Regions from separate parts of the Homo sapiens genome. Here all the other regions are linked to region 1. Evidence: fine-mapped expression QTL. A gene starts in region 1. Each other region holds a variant in brackets. All regions are shown on one strand. Distances are from middle to middle.

Region 1 (5,822 bases):
CCGAGATCATGCCACCGCACTCCAGCCTGGGTGACAGAGTGAGACTAAGTCTAGAAGAAAAAAAAAAGAGTTCTAAAAGTCCCATTGAAAGTCTATTAGTCACAGTGCAAATTTATTTTAAAATTTCAAATATCATCATAGGAAGGCATATGATTTTTATTCTTAACTAAAAGCATCATGGATTTTAAGTTTGAAAAAATACTGTGATAATAGGTGATTTTAAAAATATATGTATTTCAAACCTTTCGTTTTGCAGAGGAGGAGACTGATGCCAAAGAGACAGAGTTAAAGCACCAGTTAATGACATTTCCTTGGCCTTGGTCTCAGAGAATTAGGAAGTACCAAGGAACCCAGGCCTGATTTCTGATTCTAATTAGAAGCAGGGTCAGTCCAGGAGGCCTGTGTTTATCTCTGCAGCAGAAGTTCACTGCATTCTCACTTCTTGCTCGTCCTAGATCTTCTCTGCTGAGTCTTCTGGTCACCTGCTATGTCACCTGCAGTCTGGAGAAGAGGTACTGTCAAGGTGTGGGGTGTGTTTTTCCCTGAGGAGTAACCTTGAACAGTGCACATTGTTTTTACCTTGAAATGAAATTTTAAAGATAAATTTATACATGGGACAGGAATGTTCTGATAACTTGCTGGATTTGTCCTCTAAGAAATTTTGCCCAAAAAGGGGATAGGAAAGGGAGAGGGTTCATTGCTTGGGCAGAAAAGATGTGCACAGGCAAGAATGATTGCATGAGAGTCAATGGTTATTGGTACGTATCAGAACCTTAGATTGGGTAGAATCTCTAAGGTTGTCAGAGCTGTTTGAAATGAGGGCGTATTAGATTCACCCTGGAGCATTGCCTCCCTGGTGGGAGGGAATCCTGGGTGGACAAAGAGAGTTTCTGCTGTGGCTGCCACACTCCACACCTCCCCTGCAGCAGGACACAATCCAGGGCAGCAAACTGGCCCATGGGGTCCGGAGGACCTATGCCAAGATCCATTTCCATCCCAACACCCTTGGATTGTCTCTCTCTGGGAGGGACTGCCAGAGAAGTTAGGGATCTGGAGCTTTGAAAACCACAGAGATATTTAAAATTACAATTTTAGAGAAAGATTTAAAATGATGAAGCACCAACTATTTTTGTTTACAGCCCCTCTTTGCAAATGTGGAGGAAACATGTAGGGATACACATCTTCTTCTCTCTTTTTTCACAAGATGATTCATTTCTCCTAAATTGAGAAATGAGAAAGACTGGGTGGAAGGAGGTTGTGGATTGACATGAAAGAGAAAACTTTTTTAATTCAGAAAAATAGTTCATGTGTTTTCACACACGTGTACATATGTGCATACACACACACACACACACACACACACACACATCCAATCCCCCTGAATATCCCAGTTTCCCCTGCACCTTCCTTGCCCCCCTCCCACTGGCTTCTTAGCCTCCTGTCCCAGAACAACCCCACCAGGCCTGCAGAGCCATCACTGAAAAGGGCATGGCTGTCCTCTAGACTGTAATCCTGAGTCCAGAGGTCTGGCCAAAGATTGGAGGAGCATCCAGGCCTTGACCCCCAGGCCTGCCAGTGTTCCAGGACATTTGCTCACTCATACCCACTCACAATCTTACGTGTACCCCGGTTCCCCGACTGAGAGAACTATGAGGAAGGAGGGGGCAGCTTTTGCCATCACTAAGGTAAAGAGGTGCCAGGCAGCTCTGCTCGGTCCCAGGGCTCACCAACCCTGCCATCATTCCCACCAGTGGACCCCTTCTTAACCACACCCAGGCCCCCATATTGCTGAGGCTATTGATTCCTACAGACCAGGCCAGAGGTCAGCTCAGTCCTGTTCCTTTCTAAGGCCTTTCCACACAGAGATGAAGTCTAGGCCCTCAATGCCCTTCCCCTGAACTCTTCTTCCAAGTTCAAAATCCTCAAGGAGCAAGAAAGAGGGCAGGTGGCTGCGTGTGTGTTCCAGAGGAGAGAGGCGAGGAGTTGCTGTGGAATGGGTTATGTGACAATTTTGTTAGCCTGACAATGCAAGGGTGTGAACGCTATCTGTGTAGAACAGAGGGAATGGCTTCAGGTGCTGCTCAGGATTCTTCCCTGGAAGAGGTCATAGCTGTGGTGAGAAGGTAATAGCATCTTGCCTACAGCCCCGAAAGCAGGCTCTACCTAAAGAATCAGGCATAAAACAGAAGTTCCCTCCTTCCTTTTACAAAAGAAAAGGCTGCTTCCTGGTGAGCAAACCAGGGGAGACAGGGGGCAAGGAGGGCATCCTACAGAGACCATCCCTCTCACTTCTGGTGGTCAGTGACCCAGGAGGACCCAGAGAACCTCATCCTCAGGCTCCTAGGCCTCTGTTCCCCACTCCTCCAATATTTCCAGGCCTGCTGAGTTAGGGCTCAGCTGCCTCCCTCTTCCCTCCGCTGGAAACAGAAGCTCCCAGCGAATGTTTCTAACTCCTGAGTCCACTCAGCCATGTCCCCCTTGCAAAATCCTCCCCTTCCCGCACCCCCCTGCACCCAGCCAGCCAATCCGCGGCCTACGAGCCTCGCCAGACCCATCTCCCAGGGCCTCAGCGGGATAAAACCGGTCGGTGATGCCGGGTGGATGGGAACAAACTTCAGAAGGAGGAGAGACACCGGGCCCAGGGCACCCTCGCGGGCGGACCCAAGCAGTGAGGGCCTGCAGCCGGCCGGCCAGGTATGTCACCCAGGGGTTAGCTGGAAGCTGGCTAGCAGTGAGGACGGGGGATGGAAGAAAGGAGAGGGTCCCAGGATGCCTGGCAGCCTTTTCCCTCCCAAGTTAAACGGGATAAGACTGGGACAGCGGAGGGAGTGGGCACGGAGGTTGGAGTCTGGAGCTTCTTCAGCGCACTCCCAATCCTTGATCCTCCCGGGAAGCCTGTTAGCTAGGCTAGGCTGAGGTTGGCCCTACTTCGCCTAAAAATCCTCCTACTCCTGGCAGACGATGCAGGTGTAAAGGATGAGGCCTGGGGAGGGGGCCTGAGGATGCAGGCATCGAATCTCATCGCATCTCATGCCCTTCTCCTGGGTTTGTGCAGGGCAGCGGCAGGCGCGGCCCGGACCTACGGGAGGAAGCCCCGAGCCCTCGGCGGGCTGCGAGCGACTCCCCGGCGATGCCTCACAACTCCATCAGATCTGGTAAGAACGCGGTGTGGTCAGGATCCCCGAGCCCCCGCGCCGCTGAGCGTCCGTGCGTGCGCTCGGGTGGTTGGATCTCGAGAGCGTCAGCACGGGATTCGCGGGACCCACCCGCGTGGGGACCCAGCTGGGGCGCCTGGGGCCTGGCCCTCCGCTGGAGCCGCCTCGCTGTTCTCGGGCACTGGGGTTCCACCCGGCCAGCTGAGCCGCCCTTGCCCGGTTTCGAGGGACCACATGGATCGGTGAGGGGATCTCTGTGGAGTTAGAGGGGGTTTCCTTTGAGCTCCATTCCCAGCCTTGCATGGCGCATTAGTGTGGACATTCTTCGTGCTCTGTCCCTGGGCTGCACCGGTGCTGGACTTGCCGTTTCCCCGTCCCCGACCTCTAAGTCCTCTTCCTCGGGTGCGCGCAGTCCTTCCCAGTGACTCCCCTGGCTGGACTGTGAGCTCCCCGCATCTCTCAAGCCAACGGCAATGGAGCCGGTGGTCCCGGGCCCGGGAGCCGGCAGCGCACTCAGGTGCTCTCCGACTCCTCCTGGCCCAGCACCGGGCAGGCCGGGCGCCGCGCGCGGGGCGTCCGGCTGGTGAGGACTAAGCCGCTCGCGGAGTCAAAACCCCCTCCCCACCTGCGCCCGGAAGCAGGGCCTTCAAACACACTCGAGCTCCCAGGCCGCGATGCCTGTTTTCCCCCTTCCCGGCCAGGGCTGGGCAGGGTCTTTGCTGGGAAGGAGCTCCAGGGTCAGGGCTGGTGGGCGCAGCCGTCCCGGCGCGCAGCGAGTGCGGACAGCGGTGGAGGCGCAGCGCGGCCCGCAGTGATGGATGGAGCCCGGCCGGCCGCAGAGAAGGCGATTTATGGGGCCAGGGCGCATCGCTATCGATTTGGGCCGGCGAAGTGAGAGGAAATCAATATTTCAGAATGAATTCTCCGCGAATATGATGTCCCGCTCTGCAAACGGGACATTTGTTATAATAAGGAGGGTCGGATCGGGCGCGCAGCGAGGCTGAGATCTCTATTTAGCCAAGCGCACTGCGGGGGCCCGGGCTCTGCGGCGCAGTCTCCAGTCCCAGGGCCATGGCCCAACTAGGAGGGGAGCGGGAACCCCCTGGGGCGCCGGAAGATTTCTCACTCGGGTTCTCTCTAGAGCTGCAGACGAATGCTCCCTCCCGGCCCCCATTCCCCTCAGAGACCTGGGCCAGAATCGTCCGGCTGCCCCCAGAAGGCGCGGGGTCCCTTCAAGGTCCTCAGGGGAGAGACCTCGCAGCCATTCCCCGGCGCGGCGGGGTTGGGGAGCCCTGGGACCGAGCAGAGCTCCCTGGCACCTCTTTACGGTCCGCGTCCTGGAACCACGAGCGCTCCTAGGCCACTATCTAAGGTCAGGATCAGGTTTTAGTCCCTTAATCTTTAGCCAAACCGTGGTACGATACCAGACATCGCCAGGACCATCCCTGAGGCCTAATGTGCAGTGCCCGGTGCCCATGCCAAGCTGGTGCAATGGCACTTCTGCGCCAAGCTGGTGCAATGGCACTTCTGCTCGGCTCTGGAGGTCCATCTTTCCTCCTAACCTTCCCCTGACCCTTCCGGCGGTGGCAGGAGGAGTGAGTGCTCTCGGAAATCAAATTCACTGTGGCCGGGCTGGACCCTTACTCTCTGCCGCTGCCCAAGAAATGAGACGATGTCCCCGTCCCTCAGATGAGCTTTTTTTTTTTTTCGCGGCTACTTATTTTCATTCTAGAAGTACTCGTTAGAATAGATGGAAATAGAGTATGGAAAGAATAAATAAAGGCACAATTTATTTTTACTGTAGTTTTAATCAGGAACAGTCCCAGATGATGAGATGCGCGCTTTCCCACTAGCTTGGATGCAAATCGCGCTTGGGTTTTGGGAGGGAGCCCTCTGCCCCTGGACCTACCAGGTAATTTTTTTCCCCTTTCTTCTTTTCGGGAAGACAGAGGGGCTTCTTCTACCCTCTTTCCAAAACAAATAGACAAAGTGGCGAGGGAGGGAAGATGAGACTTTCTTCTCATAGTTTAATTTAAACGCTAATAAAACAAGAAAATGGCCTATAACCGCATAGACTGCTGAAGGCGCTCCCTGTTTCTTTTCTGAACCCTCCCTCGGCAAACCTGAGGGAGAGGCCGTCTGTCTTTCTGATCAGCTTACCTGACACTGTTGTCTATAACCGGAGCTAAACTCATAAGCGGACCCCTCTGGTTTTTACAAGCCCATTATCTCTCGGGTTTTAGCAGGTTCCCCCTTTTCCCCAGGCACCTCTGTTCCTGAGACCGGCCGTGCTTAGGGAGCTCCCCTTGAGTTTTCTGTGAGCAGAGCCCGGGACGCAGGCGGCCACACGGCTTTCCGCGGGAGCGAGGCCGAGCGCACCCTTCCCAATAACCGGGGACGCTCGAGAAAACCTCCCCGCGCGGCCTCCGCCGCCCAGCCTGCCACGGGGTCGCCTCGTCGTTGGCTGGTCTTGCCTTGCAGAGAGTCTTAACGTTGTCTTTCCTACAGCTTTATTCTGCAGGAATGTTGAACGCGAATCATTTTAACGTGCGCAGGTCAGCGATGGGCTGAACGTTCCTTAAAATCGCTATTTTTGTTGCATCAGGGACGAAATTCTCTAAAGCAAAAACATTTTTAAAAAAATTCAAAGATGCAGAAGAAACGATA
Region 2 (5,822 bases), 470 kb after region 1:
CTGGAGTACAGTAGTGTGATCTCGGCTCACTGCAACCTCCGCCTCCTAGGTTCAAGTGATTTTCCTACTTCAGCCTCCCAAGTAGCTGCGATTACAGGTGTGTGCCACCACACCCGGCTAATTTTTGTATTTTTGGTAGAGACGGGGTTTCACCATGTTAACCAAGATGGTCTCGAACTCCTGACCTCAGGTGACCCACCTGCCTCAGACTCCCAAAGTGTTGGGATTACAGGGGTGAGCCACTAAGCCCAGCCATTGTACATATTTTGTGGGTATTTACTAAAACATTATTCAAAATAGTAAAAAAAAATTGAAATAAACTGGGGACTGGTTAAATAATTTTGGGTACAACCACATGATGGAATACTATACAGCCATTAAAAATTACATTGAGGCCAGGTGTGGTGGCTCATGCTTGTAATCTTAGCACTTTGGGAGGCCAAAGTGGGAGGATTGCTTGGACCCAGGAGCTCAAGACCAGCTTGGGCAATGTGGCAAAACCCTGTCTCTAAAAAAAAAATACAAAAAAAATTAAAAAGCTGGGTGTGGAGGCACACACCTCTAGTCCCAGCTACTCAGAGGGCTAAGGTGGGAAGATCACTTGAGCCGGGGAGGTCAAGGCTGCAGTGACCCAAGATCGGGTCATTGCACTCCAGCCTGGGCAACAAAGCAAGACCCTGTCTCAAAAAAAAAAAAAATACATTGAAGAATATCTTACGGTATGGATAAATATTCATTTTACAGTGATAGATGCAAATAAAAGCAAATTACAAAATATACAGTTTAATTCCAACTTTGATACTACATATGTATATATGAATACATGCATATGTTATGTATGTATATGTAAATATAACAATATATGTTCTATATATGGATATTATATATTTACACATACATACACACATATATAATATCTTCTCTAGAGAGCAGAAAGAGAGTAGACAGATAATGAAGATAGGATACAACTCCAGTCCAGCTCAACCTAGGGGACTTGTTTTAAAGCCTCAGGAGAGAGAAGTTGGGACTAGAAAGCAAGGCAGCTATTTGTAAGCATCTTTGTGTTTCATGCTATTGGGGTGGGAAACAACAGCACAACTTTTGAAAGCCCCTTTCTACTCACCCCACAAACTGCAGAGCAGCTTTAGGACCCTCAGAGTTCAAGAAGACCATTTGCAGAGTAGAAGAAGTAAAAACATGTATGAACTTGACCCTGAGCTCATGGACTGTGCCATGAGGGAAATTCCTAAAACAGCAGGAGAGGCCCTGGAGGAAGGCAGAGGCCCTGCATCAGCAAGTCCAGGCAAAAGCCTGCATTCCATAGATGCTCATCTCTCTGGCTGGTGAGGTCTAAAGACGTTTGGTCTCAATATTAAGTCTCGTGAGAGAGGTCACAAACCCAGTCCCTTGGCCACAAAAGGAAATAAATTCTGGCTTGAGACATTAGGGAGGAACAGGGCAAGGGGAGGTTCAAGAAAGTTTTAATGGATGAGATGATATTTAAGCAAGGCCCTGGAAAATGAGAATTTCAACCAATAGCCATATGGTAGGTCAGAAAGCAAAGATAAGGAGGGGGCAAGTGCAAGGGGCAACATCAGATATGACCAGGGTGTCGTGGGGCATGGCTGATGGAGAAGAAGATTAGACTGGAGTTTGGGAATGCCACAGTATCGAGGTTGGATTTAATCCTATGGGTAATAAAGCCAACTGTTCAACCCCCAACCCACTTGCAATATGGCTCCAAAATAGCAGGTGTTTGATAAAATGACTACTTTTACTCTACTATTCCCTCCCTCTTAAGAAGAAAAAGAAAGTGGAGGCTCAGAGAAAGGCAGTGGCTTGTCCCAATCACACTATGATTTGGCCACAAAACAAGAACGAAATGTTACACCCAAAAATGCTGCCTCCACCTCCCTTCCTTGCTTTCCTCCCTGCTGGACTACAGACTATCTCAAGAGTGACGTACACCATCAGGGCTTCAGCTTTTCCCCGAAACAATGCCAAAATATTAGCCATACGTCACTGTAGTAAGAGCCCTGAATCGGGAATCCCAGCTTTGACGCAGACATGCTGATTGACTCTGTGACCATTCTCTTCACTTCTCCACTCTATTCTTCCCCACCTGTAAAGTGAGGTCCTTTCCAGTTATAAAAACAGATGATGCTATTGTCCTGTTTTGTATCTAATCTTGCTGTGTTATAAAAAAAA[T/AT]AAGGCTCTGTACATTCATCTTGGCCAATTCCCTTCTTATCTCTACTTCCCACAGCCCCTTTTTGTACAGAAAACCAGCATTGTTCTTCTGGATCCATCTCTTAAGAAAGCGCTTTGCCTCCCCGGTTATTTAGGTGATAAGAAGTGTCCTAGATGACAGCCCTGGAATGGGCTGGAGGCAACAAAAAAGCAAGTGAAATAGACAGTTACAGCGACGACAATAATAACAACCAACACCTCTCACTAAAGAGAAAGAAATAAAAAAGAAAATTAAAATCTGCCGCAATGCCCACACAGTCATTGAATAGCTGCATGTGTACAGCACTTGGTTACTTTTACATACTTCATATTTTAGCCTTCAGAGCAGCTCACAGGGGTGGATTTAATTTTTAGTCCAGCTCCTGGCACGGTGCCTGGCACAAGTTTAATAAATGTTCTGTGAATAAATGACCCTCTTTTTAGATGAGGAAATCGAGGCTCAAGGAGAACAAGCAATGTAATGTCCCCCTCCTGTTCAGCCATCTGCCTTTCACGCCACTGAATGCAGTAGTCCTCCGTGCCCTGAACTTGACCCTCTTCTGCTTTTCGGACTGGTCCTTCTAATCCCGTTGTGACTCACTACACCACCTCTCCTGCATATGACGTCTACATTTTAAAACAAACCGTATGGAAATAACACATTAGTCGGCTTGCTCCCCCACCCCCGCAAAAAAAAAGGCCTCTTTATAACAGAAACTTCTCAGGCTGGTAGGGGAATTTTATTCCCCCATTTATGGTAGAAAGGCCCTAACCTTGGACCTCACGCCATAGCTATTCACATGGGGGAATGATGAATAACATGGGAAGCAGCATGTAACTCTCCTGGGCCCTAGTACAGACGAGTTACTCCCAGGCCGTCCTTTAACCATCAACCCCCTCCACAGAAAATGAGCTTTGGAATGTCTGCCCCAAATTGGGGTAGGGCTCCCCAGAACCATGGACATTCCTCATCTACTCCTTGGAAGTGGCAGGTCGGGTTTAGCACACAGTCTATAGAAAGTCTACACACATGGCAGTCATCTCTATCTATTGTGACAAATGGCTGGAACTCAAGCATACAATATACCCACTGGTTCTTCTTTTTTGACAGTGACATCAGGAACATTTGCATCTTCCATCCCAGGGAAAGGTAAAGAGAGTCAGGCCTTTAAACACAAAATTGATGGAGGCTCAGGTCTAATGAATTATTTCACTCATAGCTATTTTATTTTTCCTGCCAATAAAAATACTTAGAGACTGAGTTGGCAAATGAGAGCCTGAGACACGTGCGGGGAAATTCTGGTTCTGCTGCTGCTACTGCTACTGCTACTGCTACTGCTACTGCTACTGCTACTGCTACTGACTAATCACTCGGAATTCACTTTGTCTCCACCAGAACTCTGCCCCTACTTCCTTGGGAATTCCCCAGCACAGGAAGTTTGCAATTGCTTGATACCTTGCTGTTTCTAAGACCGGAAATGGAATATTTGTGGAACTTCCTTTGCCAGAGGAAATGGTGACCTTTAAACTTTCATTGAAAGAGAAGGAAGTGGGTGCGATACTACGGTTCCCTCTGTCAGTACTGTCTAGCAAGGCTAAGAATGATCCTTGGAGTGACCTCAGCAGAGTCCCTGAGAGACAGCTGGGCAGTAGCTCTACGGGTGTCCTGGGCCTAAGCCCCATCTGCCCTCCTCCCAACCCACCTTCCACTCTCAAGAGGCCTTGGATTCTATTTTCTAAGACCAGGAATGAAAAAGACTCAACAAGAACCTCACAGTCCCTACCTGAGCCTGCTTCCCAAGCCTGTCCTAGGGCTGTCCTTCCAACCCCCAGCCCATCAGCCTTGTGGCCTCCCTGTGTGTGGAAGGCACTTTCTTCCTGGCCACCAAAAACAGGTCCTCCCCGGACTTCAGGCTGCTCCTCATCAGCTGATGCCCTCCAGGTTCACACCTCCCAAAGTTCTCTTCCTGGCTCCAGGCCCTGGAATCCCCGTATTCAGCAATTCATCTTTGACTCCCTTCCTCTTTCCCCTCCCTTCTCTTCCCTGCCAGGAAGGCCCATTCCTGAGTGATGCCAGACATATCCCCATTTACCTCCACACCATCCTGCATTGAGTGGGAGCATCTCTTTTATCTCTGCAAGACCTCTCCATTACCCACGGGCTGGCAAGCTCTCCTCCTAAGAAGTTTCCCAAAGCAGATGCTTTATAGAAGCAGGAAAGGAGAAAAGGAAGAAGAAAGGGAGGGGAAGCTACTTTTTTACTGAATGCCACATGTAAACAATATATTGGGTCATCTGAACTTACCGAAGTACAAACCAGAAATGGCATTATTTTTTTCCAGTAACTGCCTTCAAACGTACTCTATCAGACCCCCCTGACATCTCAGGTCACTGCAGAACTTTCTGTTAAATAACTTGCATATATGAACAGTCTCAGAGGCCAAAAAAAAAAATAACAGCTATGCACTCTTGCACCTAATTCTGTACTTTTCGCCAAACGCCATTAAAATATTATAACATTAAAGGGATATTTAAATTCACGAATCCACAAGGATGGGGAAAACAAATGAGAAGACAGCAAGAGTGAGGGAGAAGGGGATACATTTCTTTGATCAATCAGGCAATTCCCTGGCATTCACATCACCGAGTTCATATTTGCAGTAGCAATTCAAGAGTTCTGAGCCTCACACAGGAGTATCTTTAAGAAAAAAAGAAAAAAATTTTTGGAAGGCTGGAAAGCAGTTGGGCAAATGGTAGCTGATCCTAAGGACCAATCGACATCTAGTACCTTTGGGAGTGGGATCACAGAGATGGTAAAATAAAAAAAGATTGCATGAAAGCTGGTTAAGAAATAGAAACACTTGGGCCGGGCACGGTGGCTCACGCCTGTAATCCCAGCACTTAGGGAGGCCGAAGCGGGCAGATCACGAGGTCAGGAGATCGAGACCATCCTGGCTAACATGGTGAAACCCCGTCTCTACCAAAAATACAAAAAAAATTAGCCAGGTGTGGTGGCGGGCGCCTGTAGTCCCAGCTACTCAGGAGGCTGAGGCAGGAGAATTGCTTGAACCCGGGAGGTGGAGCTTGCGGTGAGCCGAGATCGCACCACTGCACTCCAGCCTGGGCAACAGACAGAGCGAGACTCCGTCTCAAAAAAAAAAAAAAAAGAAAAAAGAAAGAAAGAAATAGAAACACTCCCCCACTCCGCAAAAAAATACATTCTGTATGTTTCCATTTATACAAAACTCTAGAAAATGTAAACTAGGCCAGGAGTCATGACTCATGCCTGTAATCCCAACAATTTGGGAGGCCAAGGAGGGAGGGCTGCTTGAGGCGAGGAGTTCGAGACCAGCCTGAGAAACATAACAAGACCCCATTTTTATTTAAAAAATTTTTTAAGCCAGTTGTGGTGGTGTACCCCTGTAGTCCCAGGTACTCAGGAGGCTGAAGTGGGAGGACCACTTGAAACTAGGAGTTCAAGGCTGCAATGAGCTATGATCGCACCACTGCACTCCATCCTGGGCAACAGAGTGAGACCTTGTCTCAAAAAAAAAAAAAACCCACAAAATGTAAACTAATCTATAGTGACAGAAAAC
Region 3 (5,822 bases), 42 kb after region 1:
AATCGCTTGAAGCTGGGGGGCGGAGGTTGCAGTGACCCGAGATTGTGCCACTGCACTCCAGCCTGGGTGACAGAGCGAGGCTCCATCTGAAAAAAAAAAAAAAAGGGCAGGGGGAAGTGTTCATCAGAAACATCATGTGGCCTTATTCCTGGTTGCTATTTCATGACCAGACATAGCTAGAAGTCATACAGCTCTTGTTTCCCTATTTTACAAATGCATCAAAAAAAATCAACAGAATATGAATATCAGTTTATTGACAGAAATCAAGAATTTGGTGGCTTCTGACTCTTCACGATTCTGAAATAATATCTGTGATAACTCTCATTGGGCATCTGCTGTCACCAAGTATTCGGTGCTAAGCACATTATGTATAAGTATACAAAATTTCATGTAATGCTTACGTCAGCCTCATAAAGTAGAGTCTATGATTCCCATACAGGTGAGAAAATTAAGGTTCAGAGCAGTCAAGTAGACTAAAGCTACTTGGCAGGTCATTGCAGAACCAGGGCTCAGAGTCGCTGAAGTTCTGAAGCATTGTGCTGCTCTGCCCCGATTCAAGTTCAATTCCAGCTAAAAAGCCCAATAATCACTGGGAAGTTTCAGTCATTGAATACAAAATCACCAAAAGATTTGACTATATAGGTTTTCTTTTTCCTTTTTTTCTAAGTTACTTGGATTTTGAAATAGCTATAGGATTCTGAGTAGATATTTTGCTGTCAAAACAACACATCCATAAAGCATTTTAAACTTCTCTTATACGCTCTAGAAATTAGGTATTTTGTTCAATTTCAATAAGACACACCCTGGCCAGGTGCAACGGCTCATGCCTGTAATCCCAACACTTTGGGAGGTCAAGCCAGGCAGATCATGAGGTCAGGAGTTTAAGACTAGCCTGGCCAACATGGTGAAACTCCTGTCTCTACTAAAGATACAAAAAATTAGCCTGGCATGGTAGCACGCACCTGTAATCCCTGCTACTCGGGAGGCTGAGGCAGGGGAATCACTTGAACCCAGGAAGCAGAGGTTGCAGTAAGCGAAGATCGCACCATTGCACTCCAGCTTGGGCAACAAGAGCAAAACTCCGTCTACAAAAAAAAAAAAAAAAAAAGGCCCTAAGCAACTCCACCCTGCCTCTAAGTGGGCCCCCTTGGAAGGCATGGAACCAGAGCACCATTTAGTCAATAATTGCTGCTATGTGCTAATGGTGCCCTGGTGGCCTCCAGAATTGACTGCAGCTTCCAAAAGTGCCCAGCATGCAACCGGAAAGTGCTGTGGATCTTTGCAGAACCCAGCTCGATGGAAATCACTGAAAACAATTGCCTTTAGTGGCACTGTTATGTAACTACTGAGCATTCCCTGAATTCAGCTTTGCACATCTCACGTAGCAGGTATGTGACGAGTGTGAAGGTATGTGGGGAATGGGTGTGTTCTTTTTTCTGCGCTATCTGCTTCCCCAGTGGAAGGAGGCCATGGTGAGGATGAGGTACACTTACCTTTAGTTAAACAAGTTCTTTTCGGAAGGAGTACCTAAGGTCATAGCTGTGCTCCTGGGAAGGGGAGGCCAGGAGGCATCTAAAATGAGGTCTTACTGATGAAGACCCCCAGGTACTTGACAAAGAGTGTTTCCAACAAAAACAACTCTCAATACCATTTTCAAGCCGAACTTGCACACTTCTATTTGTTTGGATGTGGAGAGAGAAAAGAAGAAATCCACGTGGTGGGTAAAGCACCTGGGTCCACAGCCGAAAAATCCCGGGTTTAGTCTGTTTCACTATACAAAATTGGGCCATTTACCTGAGTTCCAGGCTCCACATATAAAACACAGACATAATATTACTCACCCATGTCACTGGGCTGCTGGGGGACTCTACTAGGACAACAGAGGCAAAGCTCTGATATAAGCTCTTTGCAAATGTAAGAAGTGGTCCTTATGTCACCCAGTTTAGGGCAGTGGTTGAGAGCAGACACATTCTGATCCCTCGAATCTGAATCCTATCTTTGGCCCATCTGGAAGTGGGACAAGTTTCTTAAACCTTTGTGCCTGGGTTTCCTATCTGGGGAAGAATAAATTAACAGATGCAAGGACCCTGAACAGTCCGGTTGGAGACTGCTCCAGTCCTTGGCACCGTCCTGCATTCTGTGGGTCCCAACAGTGTGGTGAAACCAGGAAGCCGACCAGCCATCCAACCAGGGTGTGGTCCTCTGGCTGAGACTCTCTATCCCACGTCTGGGCACCCATGCTACCAGCTGGCCTTGAATTCCAGGGATGCGGGAGGACAATGAGCATGAACGAAACGTGCCGAGTGGAGTTGAGAACGTAAAGGAAGAAGGGGGCGATGAGGACCTCTCCTGGGGAGATGAGGGCTGCCAAGTCCTAAGACACAGGCTCAGGGTCTGCAGGAAGGTCGGCTTGTTGGATCGTCTCTGTGCGCTGACTTCTCTTTGCTCCCCAGGGCCTCTACCCGCTGCCCTTGCTCAACAGCACCCTGGACGACGGGAAGGCCACCCTGACCCCTTCCAACACGCCACTGGGGCGCAACCTCTCGACTCACCAGACCTACCCCGTGGTGGCAGGTACAACGCCCGGAGCCTCCCTGGCAGGTGGAGGGCGGGGGACTGAAGAGCTTGGCTGGCTGTCAGGCGGAAGGTGTGGGGCCCTGGCCTGGAGAGGAGAGGCGGGCTGTGCCGGCCGGGCCGCCAGGTGGGCCCAGGGGTCGCGCCTCCGGTCCTAGGCCGGGCCTCAAGGTGGGCCGAGGGGTCGCGCCTCCAGTCCTAGGCCGGGCCTCAAGGTGGGCCCAGGGGTCGCGCCTCCGGTCCTAGGCCGGGCCTCAAGGTGGGCCGAGGGGTCGCGCCTCCAGTCCTAGGCCGGGCCTCAAGGTGGGCCGAGGGGTCGCGCCTCCGGTCCTAGGCCGGGCCTCAAGCTGGGCCGAGGGGTCGCGCCTCCGGCCCTAGGCGGCTCCCGTAAGGTGGGCCGAGGGGTCGCGCCTCCAGTCCTAGGCCGGGCCTCAAGGTGGGCCCAGGGGTCGCGCCTCCGGTCCTAGGCCGGGCCTCAAGGTGGGCCGAGGGGTCGCGCCTCCGGTCCTAGGCGGCTCCCGCAAGGTGGGCCGAGGGGTCGCGCCTCCGGTCCTAGGCCGGGCCTCAAGCTGGGCCGAGGGGTCGCGCCTCCGGTCCTAGGCGGCTCCCGCAAGGTGGGCCGAGGGGTCGCGCCTCCAGTCCTAGGCCGGGCCTCAAGGTGGGCCCAGGGGTCGCGCCTCCGGTCCTAGGCCGGGCCTCAAGGTGGGCCGAGGGGTCGCGCCTCCGGTCCTAGGCCGCTCCCGGGTCTCCGCGCTCCCTCCTGTGGGAGAGGCGGGCGCACACACGCCTTCC[G/C]GGTCTCTCCATTTTCGCTGCAGAAGCGCAGCAGGGAGGTCTAGCTTCTCTCTCCCCGCCTTGCCACGCCTCGTGGGCCCCGGCTCTCCCCAGCCCAGACTCTGAGGGCAGCTGAGCCTGCCCCGCGCCCCGCCCGCACCCTCCACATCCCACGGCTTGGCTTGTGCGTGTTCCCTCCCCGCCATCTCACACCCCTCTCTCCTTGTTGTCTCCCTCCCTCCGGCAGATCCTCACTCACCCTTCGCCATAAAGCAGGAAACCCCCGAGGTGTCCAGTTCTAGCTCCACCCCTTCCTCTTTATCTAGCTCCGCCTTTTTGGATCTGCAGCAAGTCGGCTCCGGGGTCCCGCCCTTCAATGCCTTTCCCCATGCTGCCTCCGTGTACGGGCAGTTCACGGGCCAGGCCCTCCTCTCAGGTACGACAGGGAGGTCCCGGGGCCATGCAGCTATGGCGGCGGGTGGGACGGGGGTCCTCAGGGCAGACCGCCAGCCCCCTCTCTGGCCTCAGTCTCATCCACCCCCACCCTGTTCCCTAATTCCTCCGGCAACTTTTGGAGGCGCCAACATGAAGTTCTCTGTGACGGGGAAGACATGCTCGGAAGGGGCGGATGCTGTAGGGGTGCCGGGGATGCACCACCCCAAGACCCCATGGAAAAGCAGGAACCCTAAGGCCGGGAGCCGGGTGCTGTAACGTAGCAACTTGGCCTTGGTAAATGCATAAATAGATAGAAGGAAAAATGAACATTTTGGAGGGAAAAAGGAATTGGCTTTTGGAGCCCATTTCTGGATCAAATTTCTAAAAAGGCCAAGGGTCAGTCCCAGTTGTGTTTCCATGATGCAGCTATCTTCATTCCTAGCTTAACAGCATCACCGGGAGGACAGTCAGACATCTGTTAAACATGATAAATTCAGTGATTCAACAACTTGAGAGGAGTGGGGGACCTCCCATCAGGAACCTCAACTGCCTCAAAATATTTAAAGCTGGAAGCACCGACCGGGCGAGGTGGCTCACCCCTGTAATTCCAGCAGTTTGGGAGGCCGAGGCAGGTGGATCACAAGGTCAAGAGTTCAAGACCAGCCTGGCCAAGATGATGAAACCCCATCTCTACTAAAATTCAAAAAATTAGGGGGTGTGGTGGCAGACACCTGTAATCCCAGCTACTGGGGAGGCCGAGGCAGGAGAATCGCTTGAACCCAGGAGGCATAGGTTGCAGTGAGCTGAGGTGGCGCCATGGCACTCCAGCCTGGGTGACAGAGCAAGACTCCATCTCAAAAAAGAAAAAAACAAATAAATAAAAATAAGTAAATCTGGAAGCACCTGAGGGAGCCTCTAGATCAAACCTCTTATGCTGATGAGGAACCTGGCCCAGGGAGGAGAAGGTCCCTGCCAAGGTCTCTGGGCAGGAGCACCATCTGTAGCTGGTTGAGGCCTGGGCCTGCACTGCATGAGTCAGACCTCAAGGGGAGCTGGCTCCTCCTGGCAGAAGGACCTTCGCTCATCCAGCCAGGGCCTGAGGAATGGCTGAGAGTCAAGCGCTTGGCTTGGGTTGGAGAGGGCCTGAGATGCAGTGAAAGTGGGAAGCAGAGACCCATATGGTCTTCAGATACCTCAAGGGCTTCCACAGGGATAGGACTATTTTAGATGTGGGCCCAGTGGGGGCCCAGGACCAGGGAAGGAAGCCAGCTAGCTCTCAGTTCAGCATTGGAGGAATCTCTTTAATAGCGGCACTGTCTCCAAGGAGTGTGGGTATTTAGTGACAGAAGTAAATGCCTCTTCACCTCCCACACCCTCCTACCCCGACGACCTTGAAATGCTGGAGCAGAGACCAGTGCGTGGGTGGGGTGTGTGAGACCTGTCACAGAGGCAGCCCAGAGTCAGACAGTCCATCTGGACCAGTGGTTTCAAATTTGGGCCTCTCAATGCTCTCTTGAAATGAAGCCTTTTACAGAAGACATGTATGCTCACCAGACCCCTGAAGAACTGCTCTTTTAGAAGGGGTCCCTGCCCCTAGAAAGCCCTTGGACTTCGAAACCACTGCACCAGAGGATTAAGACCTCTACAAGCCCAGAGTAACCACAGGGTCATGTGATAAAAGTCCCTGGACCCTTTTTTTTTTGTTTTTTTGTTTTTTGAGATGGAATCTCACTCTGTTGCCCAGGTTGGAGTGCAGTGGCGCGATCTCAGCTCACTGCAACCTCCACCTCCTGGGTTCAAGTGATTCTCCTGCCTCAGCCTCCCGAGTAGCTAGAACTACAAATGGGCGCCACTACACCCGGCTAATTTTTGTATTTTCAGTAGAGATGGGGTTTCACCATGTTAGCCAGAATGGTCTCAATCTCCTGACCTTGGTCCGCCCACCTTGGCCTCCCAAAGTGCTGGGGTTACAGGTGTGAGCCACTGCACCCAGCCCATGGACCCTTTTTTATAACTGGCTCTACATTTTCTTTCTGGCTGGC
Region 4 (5,822 bases), 550 kb after region 1:
TCACATTTGTTAGTGCTCACTATGCCAGGCACTCGGCTGAGTCTTTTACATACTATAAAATACTGTTCCTGAGGCTGGGCATGGTGGCTCATGCCTGTAATCCCAGCACTTTGGGAAGTCGAGGCGGGTGGATCATTTGATGTCGGGAGTTTGAGACCAGCCTGGCCAACATGGCAAAACCCTGTCTCTACTAAAAATACAGGCGTTATCCAGGCGTGGGGGTACGCACCTGTAATCCCAGCTACTCAGGAGGCTGAGGCAGGAGAACTGCTTGAACCTGGGAGGCAGAGGTTGCAGTGAGCCAAGATCATGCCACTGCATCCCAGCCTGGGTGACAGAGCAAGACTCAGTCTCAAAAAAAAAAAAAAAAAAAAAAATGTTCTTGCCTCCCTGGCATGTACTCCCTTTTCCAATAAAAGCACCCCAGACTGGGTGCGGTGGCTCACGCCTATAATCCCAGCACTTTGGGAGGCCGAGGTGAGCAGATCACTTGAGGCCAAGAGTTCAAGACCAGCCTGGCCAACGTAGTGAAACCCTGTCTCTACTAAAAATACAAAAATTAGCCAGATGTGGTAGAGTGTGCCTGTAGTCCCAGCTACTTGGGAGGCTGAGGCAGGAGGATCACTTGAACCCGGGAAACAAAGGGTGCAGTGAACTGAGATCACACCACTGCATTCCAGCCTAGGCGACGGAGCAAGACTCTGTCTCACAAAAAAAGCACCCCAATTTCCCTACTACCACCCATTTCCTGCTGACAATCTACATGGTTAAGAAGAATGGACTCAACCCCAGTATGCGCATGTGACCCAGTCCTGGCAAAGCCAAACTTGGCATCTCCCTGGCCAGTGGCATTGATTGGAGGATGGGATAGTGTCACAACCAGTGAGGCATCATTTCCCAGACTTTCATTAGAAAGATGCTTCCTGGTAGAGTTGCTGAAAAGATAAAGATAGAAATCTGGAGTTTGGGAACAGCCATCTTATAACCTCATGGACAAAACCTGCCAGAGAATAGTACCAACATGGAATAAACTTGAGAGTTGGAGAGAGCAAGCTATGTCCAATGACATTGATTTGACTCCCTGGTTAATGCTATGCCTGGAGCTGGGCTAACCCTGGACTTTTTAGTTATATGAACCAATAAATTCTGTTTTTTCTCAAACCAGTTTCATTAGGTTTCCTTCAGTTGCTAAAGAAAAAATCCTGACTAATGTACACACACACACACACACACACACACACACACATATATATAATAGCATAGAAAACACTTATTTAGTGCTTACTCTGGCCAAGCTCCATGTCCGTTATCTCACTATATCCTTATAATAGCTTTATGACATGGTTATGGAAATAGAGTAGTTAATAAATGTCAGTCCTGCAATTTCAAAGTCAGGGCTGTCTGGCTCCAGGTTCAGAACTTTTAACTCCTATCTCTATTTAAAGTAAGGAAATGAGGACTAAGGTGATGATAAGGAAACACATCTGAGCAAGATAAATTATTGAACTGTTCCCAGTTTACCAAGCAGGAATCACTGTGACAGCCAAAGTACTGTCATTTATTCTACAAATAAATGATCACATTTTTACCACTAGTTCACTACCACAGAGATGCTGCTTCTGTTCTCTTCATTTCCTGACTGCTCAAGACGATGCCAGAATGAGGATGTCAGTTCAGCTGCTGTCACTAGTCCCAAATGGAAATGCATCTCTCTCACATCAGCCATCCAAGTGACAGCCCAATGCTAATCTACTGCCAAGCCCAGCCTATGTCTGTCTTGTGACTCCACCATCCCTTGGAGGCAGCCTCGTCCATGTGGCCAAAGAAGGCTCCCACCCAACTTCACTCTCCAGCCAGCTGGAAGGGGGAAGAGAGGAACGGGAAGGTATGCCCCTCCTGAGGTCACGGATTGGAAGTTGGACCATTACTTCTGTCCAGAATTTAGGGGCCAGAACTTGGTCCCATGTCCCCCCCTCCCACCCCATCTAAAGAAGCAGGGAAATGTGTATCAGATGGCCACATGCCCAGCTAAAAATTCTTCCAGAAATGGGAGATGAATGTCAGTGTCTGCACACAGTCTTGGAAGCAATGGTGTGCTTCTGTCCCTAAGGTATAGATAAAACAGGAGTGTAGAGGTGACATTAAGTTTAAAAAAAAAAAAAAACTACCCAAATAGAAGTATCTGTCCTACCTCCTACCCATGAGGTAGGACAGATACAGAATTAGGAGTTTGTCTAAGGATATGAGTTTTCTCATGAATGTGTCTGGGTAGGAGGTAGCATTCTAATCCAAAGCCCTATATCCTTTCTCCACTTTCTTTTTTCTCATATTCTTTGTCCTGCCCTTTCCCTGCAGTTCTACAAGAGTAATAATAAACTGGGTGACATGTGTCTTTCAATAAAATACACAGGTACGTAGATGCCAGAGACACAACGGTGAGCCAAAAGGACATTACCTTTTGGAGCTGAGAGTCTAGTGAGGACACGTGTTAATCTAGGAACCACAAATGCAAGACTCCAAGTCCTGAGAAATAGAGGCCTATGAGCGAGGGACTAAAGAGAAACTGGTCTAGTCAGGGATCTTCGCTGAGGGGAGAGCGGAGGTAACAGGGAGAAGAGGCAGGGAATGGGCCAGACATAGGAAAAGCACAAGAAAGGCCCTTTGGCCACCTCTCTCCTTTCCCTCGCTAGGATCCCCTAAAGCATTTCTGCCAGATTGTTTATCCCTCAGTCCTTTTCTGTATCCTCTCTACCCTGGGTAGGAATTCTGAGATTTGACTTTTGTAGTGTTAGCTACCACACTATATTTCAGGACCTTTCC[G/A]GAAAAGTATGGGCTCTAGGGTCTGAGCAGTTTTTCTGATAAATACTATCCTTTAGCTCTTGACTAAGAATCAAGCGTTTAAAGACACAGGCCAGTGAGACCTGGGATTTACTGGAGAACCTGCCCCTGTAAAGACACAGGCCAGTGAGACCTGGGATTTACTGGAGAACCTGCCCCTGTAAAGACACAGGCCAGTGAGACCTGGGATTTACTGGAGAACCTGCCCCTGTAAAGACACAGGCCAGTGAGACCTGGGATTTACTGGAGAACCTGCCCCTGCAGGCTCTGGGACCTGAAAGTCAAACCAGGGAAAGGAAGAAAAGGCCTTGGCAGTGTCAAACCTGGAAGCTTCTGAAATGCAAAGAAGATGTTTTAAAAAAAAAAATGCCAGGCTCGGTGGCTCTCGCCTGTAATCCCTACACGTTAAGAGGCCGAGGCAGGCGGATCACTTGAGGTCAGGAATTTGAGACCAGCCTGGCCAACATGGTGAAACCCTGTCTCTACTAAAAATACAAAAATTAGCCAGGTGTGGTGGAGTATGCCTGTAATCCCAACTACTCGGAGGTTGAGGCAGAAGAATTGCTTGAACCCAGGAGGTGGAGCCGAGATCGTGCCACTGCACTGCAGCCTGGGTGACAGAATGAGACTCTGTCTCAAAAAAAAAAAAAAAAAAAAAAAGTAAACTCTCTGATTCCATGGCCCGTTGTCCCTTATTTATCCTCAGGTATCTAAGTGTTGCCATTGTTTATCCACAGAAAATGAAGCTAATGAAGTGTGTCCTCAGACCTGTTCCTTCAAGGGTTTACTTTGTCATTTCAAACATGCAGATTCAACCTAGGTCTCCACAGAATGCCAGATGATACCACTAACAGACAAAAAGTAAACTGTAGGAGTAAACTGAAATCAGTGACATCAGAGCAATGATGCTTCAGCACTTTAATACCACAGAGAAGCTTCTAACACATTCGAGAGTCAAGTTTTAAAATCATGAGTATGACTTTTTATGTGTTTTAATGTGTATACACAAACTCAAAGACATTTGGGCTATCTCATTTAACATCTTTCGTAGTGACCCAGAATGAAAGAGCAGTTAGTGAGGCAATATATAGCCAATCAGGTTTTACTGTTCTTACTAGTAACAGAATCAGAAGTGCACAGAAATAACTATTTTTTAAAAGAAATGTTTAGAAATAAAATTGGATATGAGACATCATGCGTTCAAGAGAAGTAGGTAAAATAATTTCACTTGTGCACACGTTTCCAAACGTCTCAAAGACCATTGAGGATGCCTTCTAGGTTAAGAGCAATACTGCCTCCTCCCTAAAAGAAGTGTTTGCAGGCTCCAAATCTGCTGCATTTAGGAGATTTCAATACAGTTGCTTTTTCCTTTTTCCATACTTGTGTTATCTGAAAAATATCTCAAGTAGAAGATGGCCCGTGATGCCAGCCCATGTCCAGGATTCCGTCAGCCTCGATGTAACTTTCCTGATCCTCGTTTCTCTCTTTGCCCTAACCCTTATAAGAAACACAGAAAGTGACTATGGATATTTTCTTCCCAAGCTCACACAGTGACGCCCAACCAGGGGTAGATAATGTGTCAAAATGCCCTAGGCTGGATCCTGATGGGGTGAGGATATAGAGGGATCAAACCACAGGCTTCCCCAGCAAGCCTCTGTTACTGACAGGAGTGTGTCCATCTCTCTGCTGGGCTAGGATAGAAAAACAGTTGCCAACCACTGATTAAAGCCTGTGAATGCACTTGAATTTTGAGCTTCTCCTAGGCAGGAATGAAGTAACTTACACTTTATTTTCTAAACTGCCCGGCACACAGGAGGTGCTCAGTAAATACTGGTTGAAAGAACAAACACTGTGCCTGGTACAACCCAGCTAAAGGGGACCTATGGGATACACATCTTTTAAAGTGAGCCCCCAGAAAGCCAAGGGAGAAAGAGGAACATTTATGCAGGGTTTTGGGGGTGCAGAACCCAACGAGGAATCCAGGCATCCACTCCTGTCTCAGCTCAGACGCGGGTCAAGCCTCACAAAGTGTCAAAGGGATCTGAAGCTAGAGCCACTAGTCATTAATGTTAACAAAGCCTGTCTGGGGAGGAAGCCTCAATGTGGAAGAGGGCACATCCTGCAACTTCCCCTGGAGGGAATAATGTGTATGGATTGGCCAACAGCAGTCCGTAGGGGTGCAGGGCCCAACAGTGCACAAAGCACTGCTGAGCAGAACCTGTCGCCCTTTTGGATCCAACTGTCGCTTTTTTTTTTTTTTTTTTTTTGAGACAGTCTTTCCCTGTTGCCCAGGTTGGAGTGCAGTGGTGCAATCTCAGCTCACCGCAACCTCCGCCTCCTGGGTTCAAGTGATTCTCCTGCCTCAGCCTCCCGGGTAGCTGGGACTAGAGGCTTCCACCACCATGCCCAGCTAATTTTTGTATTTTTAATAGAGACGGGTTTTCACCATGTTGGCCAGGCTGGTCTCGACCTCCTGCCCTCAGGTGATCCACTTGCCTCAGCCTCCCAAAGTGCTGGGATTACAGGTGTGAAACACCACACCTGGCTCCAATATCCCATTTTAAAAACAAATATTTAGCTTCTACTTTTCCATCCTGAATTGAAATTCATCGATACAATTATCATCTCTATAATTTAAAGTATCAAGATAATACTCTAACAAAGGAGAAATAAAGAGAAAAGCATTTTACAATAAAATAATACGCATTTTTACATAAATAATGAGGAATGACTATGCTTGCAGACAAAAACAAGCCCACAAGCCCCCCCACCAATTGCCTCATGCGTCCTGGGGTTGATACAACCCCACTGGGAACCACTACTCTAGCCCATGGGACCCCAAGCCACAGAGTTCGTCGGCCACAGCCACTCACCCTCTGGTTGCAGGAGAGGAGGCAGGAGGCAGGGTCTAGATTGGCCTGTTCTTGCTCCACAACTGACTCATGTGGCATCTGTAGGGATAAATGCAGGTGGAGGTGAAGCAC
Region 5 (5,822 bases), 86 kb after region 1:
GAACCCGGGAGGCGGAGGTTGCAGTGAGCCAAGATCACACCACTGCACTCCCGCGACAGTGCAGGATGAGACTCCATCTCAAAAAAAAAAAAAAGATGATGACCAGGGCAGACAAGTCCCTGTCCTGCCCATGCTTACTGAGGCCTTAACTAGTTCTCATGGAGGAGAAATGAATTACCTACATGGCATTCTACTGGGAGGGATCTGATGGAGAAGAAACTGGCTGACCAATCCCCACAATAAATGTGCAGTAAATGAATGAATGATGCACTAAAAGTTTGACATATTAACGTAGATGTTATCTCGCTTGCTTCTATAGCTCTTGCGGTGCCTAGCAAAAAGTCTGGCACATAGTAGGTGTTCAGTAAATGTTCATGAAGTACAGCCATGTACCATATAACAGCATCATGATGGTTCAGTCAAGGATGAACTGCATACATGATAGTGGTCCTGTAAGGTTGTGATGGAGCTGTCCTATACAGATGTATCATTTTTAATCTTTTCTATCATGTGTTTATTGTACCTTTTCTATGTTTAGATATACAAATACAGCACTGTGTTAGAATTGCTTGCAGTATTAAGTACAGCAGCATGCCATACAGGTTTGTAGCCCAGGAGCAATAGACTATCCCATATAGCCCTGGTGTGCAGTGAGCTGTACATCTAGGTTTGTGTAGGTTCACTCTATAATGTTCACACAATAGTGAAAATGCCCAACGATGCATTTCTCAGAACACACCTTCATCGTTAAGTGATGCGTGACTGTGATGAAACAGCAAATGATTTTAATTGCTTATGACACACATGCTATGTGCCAAGCACCGTGCTGAGCACTTGGAAGATTTCATTTCATCTTGATAATGGCATGGTAAGTGGTTAATACTCTCAGGAAGAACTTGAGTTGGCCAAGAGGGGGCAAATTGCCCAAGACTAGAATTCAAACCCAGGAACACCAGGCTCCCAAGTCTGAGCTCCAGACTTTCACCATGTGTAGCTTTGCCCTTCTCAGACTTTGAAGGGGTAAGAATGACTTGAAAACTTAAGAAAATATTTTAGGGGTCCCAGTCTCAGAGAGTCTGATTCAATAAGTCCAGCACAGGGAGCCTGCAGATTTGCATGGATAACAAATTCCAAGATGCTTCTGATGCTGCCCGCCAGGGAATACACTTTTACTAGCCCTTCAATAAACAAGTCCTGTTCTCTCAAGGATATTTTGGCAAAGCCAGTCCCAAGCTCAGCATCTCCCTTGGAACAAAGAACCAAGGCTCCAGGTCCTACATGAGGCTCATAAGAAGACCCCGTGGCACATACCTTCAGCAGCTCCTTGGGGAAGTTCCCGCCATCCCTCAGCCCATTCAGGTTGGTTATGAATTCCTGGCAGCTCATGCTCTTCCCAATGTTCTGTAGCCACGGAGAAGTGGGATGACTCGAGCACACACCCCATCCCAATAGAATAACCTCCCAGCCAGCAACCATGGAACCCTTTCCAGCTCCCCAGGCCCACATCCCTCAGGGGTGTTCCCTGCCCGGTCTCAGGCCTCTGGTCTTCTCCTCCCCGCACCCCTTGTTACAGCCTCAGTTCCCACAGGGACTCTCTCCACCGTCTTACCTGTCCATGCAGGTCCGTGTTAAGCAGCATGATTGCACATGTCAAGGTGTGTACAGAATCTACCCCAGAGATAGGTAAGTGGAGAGAAAGCTCATTGGAACCAGGGCTCCTGTTTCCTCTGCCCACACTGCGTGGGGTAACCGAATAACCCCTGGAATGCTTCCATTCTCCACAGCCCCCAACACACTCCCACCAGTTCACTGTCACCTACTGAACTCCCAAGCAGACATGGGCACCCCAAAGTTTCCCTGCTTTGCTGTCAGGGCCAGCCCCTCCCTACCTACTGAGGGGAAGATCCCCGGATTGCAATGGTGGAAGCGTCTGGAGAACTGGTAGAGGATTCGCTCCCGTTCCTGAGTCTCCCCACTGAGCACCAAGGCCTGGAGGAAGCTCCTGCAAAGGAGGGCCAGGGTCAAGGAGAGAGCCCGGGAGCTTAGGGCCAATCAGATCCCAGCCTCAGGCTGGTGCCACTGCCCCATGCCATCCTCCACAGCCTCCCCAGAGAGGGCCCAAAGACATTACCGGAGGGCTCGGTCCAGACTCTGGCCTCCAAACTGGAAGAAGGACAGGTACTCCTCAGCCACAGCCCTGCTAAAGTCATTGCTGCAGAGGGAAAAGGGGCATGGAGTCTGCACCAGGGGCCTGGGCTGGGGCTGCAGATGCACTGGGGCCCCCAGGGCCTGCACACATTATGCGGTGGGGGTGAGCAAGGGAAGGGTGCAGGCACGCTGGGCCTTGGGTCCTGACAGAGCAAGGGGGCAGCCAGGGTCTGGTATGCCCTGCTACCCTATTCAGTGTACACTGGGAGACACTGGGAGAGACCTGTGGAGTCTGGTTGGCAAGGCAGTGGGGACCAAGGACCAAGGGTGTGGAGAGCATGAGGACCATGACTGAGAGTAAGCAGCAGATACAGTGAGGGTATGGGGGAAAAGTTAGGAGGGGAG[A/G]TGGGAAGGGAACAGGGCAGGGACGGGAAGGGGAGGGTGGCCAGTGGAGGGAGCCCTTCAGCAGCTCCTCCCTGGCTGCCTCAGCCTCCAGCCTTCCCCAGGCTCAAAGCCCCTTACTTCTTCTGCAGGTAGGCAGCCACTTCAGACTTCCGGAAGCCCTCCAGGCGATAGAGGCGTGAGGCCAAGTTCCAGGCTACCTTGTTGTTCCTGACGCCATTAGCTAGCTTGTCTCCAGCTGGTGGTCTCTGGCCTTCCTCTGGGGACTGTGCTTGGGGCATAGGGCTCCCAGGAAGCCAAGAAGAGTTCATCGGTGTCCTCAGATTCTCACTTGAGATAGACATGCAGGAGCTCTGGGTCAAGTGTTCTTGCAGGTCAGTTGTGGCAAGAGTTCCCCGAGCTCAGCGCCTTGAATGGTGGGGCCCGGAGGAGCTGGACCCAGGCCCTTACTCAGGGAAGAGACAGAGTCACAGCCAGACTGACTTAGCCTGGCCTGGGACCAGGAGAACCCCGAGAGGAAGGTATTCATGCAAGGTCTCCAGGTCTGGGGTCCTGCGCTTTCTCAGGTAAAGCACAGCCATGTTCCGAGTTTATCTCACCTCAGGTGGCAGGTGCATCCCTGTGAGGCCCCTAGCGTTGTTTTCTCCAATGCAAGGCACGTGGGATTGTCTCCCTCACCTGTCCTGTGGTCCTCCTGTACCTCCTTGTCCCTTCCCCACCTCCCAGCTCTGGCTCTAGCCTCCACTCCTAGATCTGGAGCCAAGAAACCTGTAAGGATGAGCTGAGAACAGGAAGCTAGGTGGGCTCTAGTAATGGCAGCAGCTGGGGTAGTTCAGGAGGTGGTCCTCAGCCTCTCCCTTCCCCCACCTAGCAGCCTGGATGACAAGGAGACTGAGTGGTGACCTATGACCTAGTGTGAACAGGCCTGGGTGACCCCCAGCCGACTCAGAACCTCCCAGTCCAGCACTAAGACTCTCAGATGTCACTCAATCCAATCTAAACCTGACTCTTCTGCTTCCCCGACAACATTACAATCAAGTGTGGGGTATTCCAGTTATTTAAACATTCATTATTCAAGTGATACAATTAGGAAGTTGAACTGGTAAGCAGAAGACATCATAATATGAAAACATTCCAGGGGCCTGGGCGCAGTACTCAGCCTGTAATCCTACTGCTTTGGGAGGCCAAGGCAAGTGGATCACTTGAGGCCAGGAGTTCGAAGCCAGCCTGGCCATCATGGCGAAACGCTGTCTCTACTAAAAATACAAAAATTAGGCAGGGTGGCACATGCCTGTAGTCCCAGCTACTCAGGAGGCTAAGGCAGGAGAATCACTTGAACCCAGGAGGCGGAAATTCCAGTGAGCTGATATTGTGACACTGCACACCAGCCTGGGCAACAGAGCAAGATGCCGTCTAAAAGAAAAAAAAGAAAACAATCCCTGATAAACAGATATATAACATTAGAATTCACTTAAACACCCTCACTATCTAACACAGCTGGGTCAGGGTTAATGGGAGGGTTAACCCCATGCCCATCACAAGGTCTTTGGGTGATGGTGACAGAATGTCAATCAGTGCCAGAAACCAAAGAACCATCTTCCTTATGCATCTGGAAACTAGGCTGCCCCGTGGAGAGGTTCAGAGGCTTGGTAGCCAGAGAAGTTCCAGCCTCTGAAAAGGGAAGTTTCTTCATGCCAAAAATTAAAGTTCACCCAACCCAAAATAGAAGTAACTAAATCTAACTAAAATGAGAACATACTTTCATAGTAAATAATGAAAAGGTTTACTTGGAGCTTTATCTTGGTAAATGTACAAATAAGTTTATTTAAATCTTATAGTAAACACAATGCCTAAAATTTAATTTTCCCAGCACAAGTTTTCTGGCTGGATAAGACATCTTGCATTCATCCTTGATTTTCACAGTAAGATCATAAAGGCCATTAAAAACAGTAACAGGCTGGGTGCAGTGGCTCATGCCTATAATCCCAGCACTTTGGGAGGCCGAGGTGGGAGGATTGCTTGAGCTCAAGAGTTGGAGACCAGCCTTGTGGTCTGCCTGGGCAACATGGTGAGACCACATCTCCATAAAAAATAAAAATAAGTAAAAATTAGCTGGGTGTAGTGATACACGCCTGTGGTCCCAGTTACTTGGGAGGCTGAAGTGGGAAGATCACTTGAGCCTGGGAGGCTGAGGCTTCAGTGATTCATGATTGTACCTCACACTCCAGGCTGGGCAACAGTGTGAGATCCTGTCTCAAAAAAATAATAATAATAACAGCTGTTTTGAAATAGAATTCACATACCGCCCAATTCACTCATTTAAAGTGTACAATTTACAGCCAACTGATCTTCAACAAAGCAAACAAAAACATAAAGTGGGGAAAGGACACACTTTTCAAAAAATGGTGTTGGGATAATTGGCTAGCCACAAGGAGGACACACTTTTTCAACAAATGGTGTTGGGATAATTGGCTAACCACAAGAAGGAGAATGACACTGGATCCTCATCTCTCACCTTACACAAAAAACAACTCGAGATGTATTAAGGACTTAAATCTAAGACCAGGAACTATAAAAATTCTAGAAGATAACATTGGAAAAACCCTTCTAGACATTGGCTTAGGTAAGGATTTCATGACCAAGAACCAAAAGCAAATGCAATAAAAACAAAGATAAATTGCCAGGACTTAATTAAACTGAAGAGCTTTTGCATGACAAAAGGAACAGTCAGCAGAGTAAATAGAAAACCCACAGAGTGGGAAAAAATCTCCACAATCTATACATCTGACAAAGGACTAATATCCAGAATCTACAATGAACTCAAACAAATCAACAAGAAAAAAACAAATAATCCCATCAAGAAGTGGGCTAAGGACATGAATAGACAATTCTCAAAAGAAGATATACAAATGGCCAACAAATATATGAAAAAATGCTCAACATCACTAATGATGAGGGAAATGCAAATCAAAACCACACTGCAATAACACCTGACTCCTGCAAGAATGTCCATAATCAAAAAATCAAAAAATAGACGTTGGCATGGATGAGGTCAATAGGGAACGCTTCTACACTGCTGGTGGGAATATAAACTCATACAATCACTATGGAAAACAGTGTGGAGATTCCTTAAAGAACTAAAAGTAGAACTGCCATTTGATCCAGCAATCCCACTACTGGGTATCTACCCAGAGGAAAATAAGTCATTATAAGAAAAATATACTTGCATACACATGCTTATGCTTATAGCAGCACAATTTGCAATCACAAAA

The links. PIP is the estimated chance that this variant, and not a neighbour inherited with it, causes the effect.
Region 2: its variant is fine-mapped to the expression of PAX8 in testis (GTEx, PIP above 0.99).
Region 3: its variant is fine-mapped to the expression of PAX8 in whole blood (TOPMed, PIP above 0.99).
Region 4: its variant is fine-mapped to the expression of PAX8 in nucleus accumbens (GTEx, PIP 0.97).
Region 5: its variant is fine-mapped to the expression of PAX8 in whole blood (TOPMed, PIP 0.96).

What each region holds. Positions count from the first base shown.
Region 1 is chr2:113,275,703-113,281,524 of GRCh38, reverse strand. PAX8 (paired box 8) reads left to right here and starts at 2,604. Exons shown (of 12, transcript NM_003466.4): 1 at 2,604-2,694; 2 at 3,056-3,155. The coding sequence starts at 3,131. RefSeq lists a promoter at 2,002-3,131.
Region 2 is chr2:112,809,946-112,815,767 of GRCh38, reverse strand. No RefSeq gene overlaps it. Among named protein-coding and RNA genes, the nearest start is that of IL1B, 24 kb to the left of the region's middle. RefSeq lists an enhancer at 2,956-4,155. The variant T/AT (reference allele first, on the strand shown) is at 2,209.
Region 3 is chr2:113,233,353-113,239,174 of GRCh38, reverse strand. It overlaps PAX8 (paired box 8), which reads left to right. Exons shown (of 12, transcript NM_003466.4): 8 at 2,454-2,574; 9 at 3,593-3,781. PAX8-AS1 (PAX8 antisense RNA 1) reads right to left here and starts at 2,906. Exons shown (of 6, transcript NR_015377.2): 1 at 2,553-2,906. RefSeq lists a silencer at 3,490-3,569 and an enhancer at 3,820-4,009. The variant G/C (reference allele first, on the strand shown) is at 3,367.
Region 4 is chr2:112,729,594-112,735,415 of GRCh38, reverse strand. NT5DC4 (5'-nucleotidase domain containing 4) reads right to left here. Exons shown (of 17, transcript NM_001393655.1): 16 at 5,712-5,789. Among named protein-coding and RNA genes, the nearest start is that of NT5DC4, 11 kb to the right of the region's middle. The variant G/A (reference allele first, on the strand shown) is at 2,821.
Region 5 is chr2:113,189,438-113,195,259 of GRCh38, reverse strand. It overlaps PSD4 (pleckstrin and Sec7 domain containing 4), which reads right to left. Exons shown (of 17, transcript NM_012455.3): 6 at 2,671-2,880; 7 at 2,132-2,212; 8 at 1,890-2,002; 9 at 1,610-1,668; 10 at 1,312-1,401. Among named protein-coding and RNA genes, the nearest start is that of PSD4, 18 kb to the right of the region's middle. The variant A/G (reference allele first, on the strand shown) is at 2,554.